Homo sapiens: one gene and its partner. The protein of the gene in region 1 purifies or fractionates together with the protein of each later gene. This does not show direct contact. Each region holds a gene or a part of one and is shown in the gene's direction. Other genes may lie near its edges.

The links. The genes of interacting proteins can lie anywhere in the genome.
Region 2: the proteins of RDH8 (region 1) and NBEA purify together in Homo sapiens (affinity purification with mass spectrometry; one large-scale study listed by BioGRID and IntAct). This does not show direct contact.

Annotation. Positions count from the first base shown.
Region 1 is NC_000019.10:10,012,080-10,016,286, forward strand, and holds the start of RDH8 (retinol dehydrogenase 8), read left to right. Parts: upstream 1-1,403; 5' UTR 1,404-1,418; coding exon 1,419-1,521; intron 1,522-4,207. UniProt on the Homo sapiens protein: Retinol dehydrogenase with a clear preference for NADP. Converts all-trans-retinal to all-trans-retinol. May play a role in the regeneration of visual pigment at high light intensity.
Region 2 is NC_000013.11:35,193,768-35,197,273, forward strand, and holds part of NBEA (neurobeachin), read left to right. Parts: intron 1-2,096; coding exon 2,097-2,535; intron 2,536-3,506. UniProt on the Homo sapiens protein: Binds to type II regulatory subunits of protein kinase A and anchors/targets them to the membrane. May anchor the kinase to cytoskeletal and/or organelle-associated proteins.

The DNA of each region.
Region 1 (4,207 bases):
CAATTGGACAAGCGCAGACACGCAGGATGTGAGGGTGTTTCCCCAGGGAGGGGAGGAACCAAGAGGCGTATTCTGAGCCCTGAACTGCTCCCCGAACCCTGCTTCCCCCACCTCCGCCCCAGGGGAAGAGGGAGACGCAAGCAGTGCCTCCCTCCCAGCCTCTGACTCCCCAGACAAAGAGTCTCTGTGTCCCTGAAGAGGAGGGGTTGGGGCCCCATCAAGCCTGAGGGGGAGATGGGGGCCCCCCAGGGTGGGAGGAGGAGAGGGTATCTCTGTAAGCTGTGCCTCCTCCCACCCCAGGGACATCTGAGGCTGAGACTTCTCCAACTAAAAGACTCTCACAAAATTCCTGCCCTGCCCTGCCTTGCTGGAAGTTCTTCCTATAGTCTAACTACATCTTCTGACAGTTCTACACCCCTTCCCTCTATGAAACACTTCTGGATCCACATTCTCTGTCTCCTTCTCTCACTCTCTCCCTTCAATCAGAGATTCTTCACCCAGAATACAGACACTAATTCCCCCCAACTTTCACAGAAACTCTCCCCAGCCCTAAATAATTTATACTCGGCCAGGCTCAGTGGCTCATGCTTGTAATCCCAACACTTTGGGAGGCTGAGGCGGCTGGACCACTTGAGGTCAGGAGTTCAAGACCAGCCTGGCCAACATGGCGAAACCTCATCTCTACTAAAAATACAAAAATTAGCTGGGTGTGGTGGCACACGCCTGTAATCCCAGCTACTCAGGAGGCTGAGGCAGGAGAATCATTTTACCCTGGAAAGCTGAGGTTGTAGTGAGCCGAAATTGCACCACTGCACTCCAGCCTGGGTGACAAGAGCAAGACTCTGTCTCAAAATAATAATAATAATTTACAGTCATAATAAAAATTATAAATTAAGAAAACAGTTACAAATGGCCAAGGCAGGAGGATCACTTGAGGCCAAGAGTTCGAGACCAATCTGGGCAACATAGCAAGATCCCATGTCTAAAAGAAAAAGAAATTTAAAAATTAGCTGGGCATGGTAGTGTGCGCCGGTAGCCCCAGCTACTCTGGAGGCTGAGATAGGAGGATCGCTTGAGGCTGTGGTGAGCTATGATGGTGCCACTGCACTCCAGCCTGAGTGACAGAGCAAGATGCTGTCTCTTAAAAACAAACAAACAAAAACCAGTGATGTCTATAGTAGGTGCGGAGAAGAAATGTTTGGCAGATGAAGAAAATGAGGTGCAGAGAGGATTTAAGAGATTCTCTCTTACTGCCTGTTCAGGGTCAGTCCAGAATTGAGGGTCTCCGGGGGAGGGCAGAGGCTTTGCCCTGCAGGGGATCTGTGGGAGGGGGTTAGGAGGGAGCAGATGAGCCCAGGATGAATGGTCAGAGTCAGGTGCTGCCCGGCGGAGGTCACGAGTCCAGGGAGGGGATCAACATGGCCGCTGCACCCCGGACTGTGTTGATCTCCGGCTGCTCATCAGGAATTGGTCTGGAACTTGCAGTGCAACTGGCCCATGACCCCAAGAAGCGCTACCAGGGTAAGAAGTGCAGGGTGGCACTAGGAGGCAGCCGGGTGGAAACGGCTTCCCCAGCACTGTCTCCCCTACCCATCCCTCCCAGCTGCACTTGTGGGCTTGGGGAGACCCAGGATTCCCTCCAGGAATCATCCCCTCATCCTAGAAATATTTCTTGAGCATCTTCTGGGTGCTCTGAATGCTGGCAACACAACTGGAGATGAAATAGACAAAAATCTCAGCCCTCAGGACGGGTGTCATGTGGGGAGGAGAGGGAGAATGGGTGATAAACAGATAAAAAGAAATTGTTGCTCTATCTGGTGGGAATAAGTGCTGAGACACAAAATAAAGCATGCTGAGAGTGGCAGGGGGTGGGTGGGGGTTATTTTTAGAAGGGTTTCACTAGGGCATTTCCTAGATTGGAATAATCACTACCCTGATGCTCACTCTTCCACGTCTCCCCAGATTATTGCTTTTACTGAGATAAGCTTCTTAAGTGCTCCTGACCTTGGGGGTTGAAGGGATGGCCTTCTAGTTCTAAGAACTTGCCCTTCTGCACCTCTAGAATAAATCCCTGGGACCTGCATCCTAACCAACCAGGAGAACCCCTGACCCAGAGGGAGCATGCTGGAGTCAAAGTGGGCAAAGGGTTGTTACTTACAAAGAGGCGACTGGGGGTGAGGGCATTGCCCCAGTTGGCAGGGCTGCTTCTCCCAGCCCTCTGCCCTCTGTTTTAGAGACGCACACAGCTTTGAGCATGACAGCCTGAATGCCAGTGTGCAGGGAATAACGTGTGTCCCTATGGGCGGGCAGATGGGTGTATGAAACTGCTGGAGGCTAATGTTTATGGAGCTTTTACAATGCACCAAGCTGCATTCTAAGTGCCCTGAATCCAGGAAGTCATTTAATCCTCACATCACACCCGTGAGGCAGGCACAATCATTCACCCCATTTTATTATTATTTTATTATTTATTTATTTTGAGTCAGAGTCTTGCTCTGTCACCCAGGCTGAGTGCAGTGGTGCATCTTGGCTCACTGCAGCCTCCACTTCCCACGTTCAAGTGATTTTCATGCCTTGACCTCCCGAGTTTCTGGGATTAAGGCATGCACCACCACACCCGGCTAAGTTTTTGTATTTTTAATAGACAAGGTTTCACCATGTTGGCCAGACCGGTCTCGAACTCCTGGTCTCAGGTGATCTGCCTGCCTGGGCCTCCCAAAGTGCTGGGATTACAGGCATGAGCCACCGTGCCTGGCCTGCCCTATTTTAGAAATGAGGAAACTAAGGTGCAGACTGTGAAAGGTCTTTGCTCAAGGTCTCCCAGCTGCAAAGTAGCAGAGCTGGGATTTGAACTCAGGCAGCCCATCCCTTGCACCCATGTTTCCCACTATATCACATGTAGATGCAAGTGACCCCATTCACGTGCCTGCTACCCACAAATCACACTGACCCGAAGACAAGAGGCAAATGCCCCCAGGAGTGTTCATGGGTGATTATGGGTGCACACATTGGGGGATATCAAACACGTATGCTGGTGCATGTGCAGACATAGTACATATGCTGAGGTCCTGCTTAAGAACATAAGCTTGAGGCTGGGCACAGTGGCTCATGCCTGTAATCTCAGCACTTTGGGAGGCCTAGGTGGACAGATCACCTGAGATCAGGAGTTTGAGACCAGCCTGGCCAACATGGTGAAACCCCGTCTCTACTAAAAATACAAAAAATTAGCCAGGCGTGGTGGTGGATGCCTGTAGTCCCAGCTATTCGGGAGGCTGAGGCAGAAGAATGGCGTGAACCTGTGGGGTGGAGCTTGCAGTGAGTCGAGATCATGCCACTGCACTCCAGCCTAAGCGACAGAGCATGACTCTGTCTCAATAAATAAATAAATAAATATACAAAAATTAGCCAGGCATGGTGGCAGTGCCTATAATCCCAGCTACTTGAGAGGCTAAGGCAGGAGAATTGCTTGAACCGGGAGACAGAGGTTGCAGTGAGCTGAGATTTCACCACTGTATTCCAGCCTGGGCACCAAGAGCGAGACTCCGTCTCAAAAAAAAAAAAAAGGGCATAAAAGCTTGGCCAGGTGCTGTGGCTCTCTGGCTCCTCACGCCTGTAATCCCAGCACTTTGGGAGGATGAGGTGGGCAGATCACCTGAGGTTCGAGACCAGGCTGACCAATATGGTGAAACCCCGTCTCTACTAAAAATACAAAAGATTAGCCAGGTGTGGTGGCAGGCACCTGTACCCCTGTAATCCCAGCTACTCGGGAGGCTGAGGCAGGGGAATTGCTTGAACCCAGGAGGTGGAGGTTGCAGTGAGCCGAGATTGCACCCCTGTACTCCAGACTGGGCAACAAACAAGAGTGAAACTTCGTCTCAAAAAAAAAATATATATATATATATGGCTATTCACTTCAGTGTTCATATATGCACATATGTTGGCTATAGTTGTGTATGCATTTTTTTCATGGCAATCTGTTTTATGTTTATATATTTTATTGTCTTACCTACTAGGCTATAAATTCCATGAAGGCAGAAACTTTATCTTATTTATTTATTTATTTATTTATTTATTTATTTATTTATTTTGAGACAGTCTCGCTCTGTTGCCAGGCTGGAGTGCAGTGGCGCTATCTCGGCTCACTGCAAGCTCCGCCTCCCGGGTTCACGCCATTCTCCTGCCTCAGCCTCCCAAGTAGCTGGGACTA
Region 2 (3,506 bases), on another chromosome or scaffold:
TTATCATATTCCACAGATTAATCTATTCTTTCAGTCTATCATCTTTGACCAAACTAACAAATAAACAAACAAAATTTAAATCTATTCAACAAATATGAGGAAAACTATGATATAACATTGCATTGTGATAAATGCATATTTTAAGTCAGTTTAAATTAGTATTTGATATTAGGAATATTGAATAATATGAGGATGTTATTTATTCCTAATTTAATGTATAGATTTGATATAATTTGACTCAAAAGAAAAGGGGGAGAAAAAAATGGGAGATTTTATTTCAAAACCTGGCAACATTTTTCTGATGCTTATCCTAGAAAAAGTATTATAAATTCACACCCTCAGGAAATCTGAATGGTATGCCATTAGTTTAAATTCAAGCAATTAAAAAAACTGTCTAATAGACAACACCCAAGAATTGAGTCTGTTACTGACAAAATCCCTTCATATTGTTTTTAATTTTTTAGTATGTGTGTACAAAACTTTCAGAAGCTGTGATCACACCCAACAATTCTATCATCAGAACAACACTTCTACTAGAGATTTCACAAAAGATTTTGTGAGATGTCTTGCTGACATCAAGGTAGCCTATTTTCCTGTTGGGCAGTTTCCTGGTTTCTTGTCCTAACAACCTTTGAATTCAAAGAAACAAGCAAATAATAACAAAATCTAAGAGAAGTTATATAGAATTTACTGATTTTCAATTTTTAGGAGATCTTTGAAATAATTTAGTCTGTGCTTCTCATTTTCAAAGATTATGAAACTTTCAAACTTAAATGCAAGTTTAAGCAATACAAATAGCTAACATTTACTGAGCTTCTACTTTAAAGTGAGAACTGCAGTGAATTTACATATAGTAGCTTAATGGTATCTTACTTTATTCAAAACGATTAAGTTAAGGACTGTTATCTCCATTATACTTAGATGAGATACACTTTTCAAGGTTATCGTTTAGAATTTGGTAACATTTTATTATATGGAGAACTTTATTACATTAACCTTTGTATGATGAAATTTGATAGAAATTTAACATTTTAAAGATTTTTTTATTTCATTACTTTTAGTTGTTAATATTATATGTGTATTTCATTATCTGTGTAGTTATATGCACATATATGTTTCTGATTTAATTTTCACAAATTGAAATTTATATTTATTTACAAAGAATGAGCATGAGTATTCCAAAATATAGGCCTTGTCCTTGAGGAACATTATTATATTATTAATGTATTTATTCTTTTGAACTAATCATTTGACTTGCTTTGCATTTTGCAAGTGTGTCAGAATTTTACGTATTGTAATTTTAAAATGATCTTCGATTATCTTGAATATTTCAGATATTATTAGTTATTGAAGTACCAAAGAAAGTATAAAAATGACTTTATATTTTTAAGGAAACTAATAGAGAAATATAAGAATTTCTCTTCTATGATTGGCAGCTAACAATCAAAGGATAAGAGGGGAACATCATATAATTATTATTTATAAGCTGCTTTAGGAAATTGTTATAGGAACTATTTCCTGATGCTTTTGAAGGCATCAGTTTTGAAATGCCAGATGATTTAAGAAGCAAGAGGATTATTTTGATGCTCCCTGAACAAAATAGTAGGTGTATTGGATGATATCTTTTTGTTTTTTTTTTTGTTTTTTTGAGATGGAGTTTTGCTCTTGTTGCCCAGGCAGGAGTGCAGTGGCATGATTTCAGTTCACTGCAACATCCACCTTCCAGGTTCAAGCAATTCTCCTGCCTCAGCCTCCCGAGTAGCTGGGATTAGACGTATCCCACCGTGCCTAGCTTATTTTTGTGTTTTTAGTAGAGACGGGGTTTCGCCATGTTGGCCAGGCTGGTCTCGAACTCCTGACCTCAGGTGATCCATCTGCCTCAGCCTCCCAAAGTGCTGGGGTTACAGGCATGAGCCATCATGTCTGGCTGGATGATATCTTTCAACTGAGTTGTGTTACTACTATGCACATCCGTTTAGCAATTTTTTGTTTCTACAGGTTTTGTTTTCTTTATTTGAATATATGAAAACATTTGATTAATAATACAAGATTTTTACTTTCAAAGCTTTTTTCTAACCTAGTTTCTTTCATTACAGAAACACCTGCTGCATTTCCAGACACCATAAAAGAAAAAGAAACACCAACTCCTGGTGAAGATATTCAGGTAGAAAGTTCAATTCCCCATACAGATTCAGGAATTGGAGAGGAGCAAGTGGCTAGCATCCTGAATGGGGCAGAATTAGAAACAAGTACAGGCCCTGATGCCATGAGTGAACTCTTATCCACTTTGTCATCCGAAGTGAAGAAATCACAAGAGAGCTTAACTGAAAATCCTAGTGAAACGTTGAAGCCTGCAACATCCATATCTAGCATTAGTCAAACCAAAGGCATCAATGTGAAGGAAATACTGAAAAGTCTTGTGGCTGCTCCAGTTGAAATAGCAGAATGTGGCCCTGAACCTATCCCATACCCAGATCCAGCATTGAAGAGAGAAACACAAGCTATTCTTCCTATGCAGTTTCATTCCTTTGACAGGTAGGTACTGAACTTATTATTCACAGGGCTTTATACATAAAAGGAAAATTAGACTTTGTTAATTTTAAAATATAAGGAAGATCTTGAAAACTTTATTAACGTAGATTCTTATTACAAAGACAATCAAAATGATGGCTCAACCTAATCTTATAATAAGACATCTTAATAATACATCTTAAAGAAGAGGTTTCAATGTGATATGATGGATAGCACATTGAATTGGAAGTAGGGAAACATGGATTATGGTTATATTCCATTATCAAAGGACTACAGTACATCGGGGTGTTATTTTTCTCTTTGGACTTAGTCGTTTCATGTACATAATGGGGAAGGGGATGGGTCACATCTGTCCAAGGTTTATCCTGGCTCTGAAATTCCATTATAATATTATAAAATACTATAATAATTGTTGGAGATTATATGACATGCTTTAAGTGATAATATTTAAATTTGAACCTTAAATGGAAGTATATGGAAAAATTTTAAAATTGTTTGTGGTCATCTTCTTTATGAGATTTCCAATACCAATGTAAAAGCTGTATTTTGAAGCATGTATTTAAAAGTAAATATTTTTGAAAGGTATTTTGGCATTTTAGGTATCGAAACTATTTATAACATGGCCCATATGTCATATATCTACATTCAAATGTTAAATCATGCAAGGAATTTTTTTAAGGAACAATTAACTTTTTATTCCAGTATACATTCAATAAAAATGATAGTTCACAGAAGCAGAATAAGATATTTTAGAACCTAATACCCTAGTCATCTAATATCTTCCACTATTTAAAAACATGTGCAAGATTAGAAGAATATTTTAGTCACTAATTACTAACAGTAGTACTTAACATTGATCACTGGGGTTAATGCCTATTCCAAATAATGTTTGCGTGTTAATGTATTAACTGAAAAATGTGATGGCTTACCTTTTAAAGTAAATCATTGTTATTGATGTTTTAAAACATCTTTTC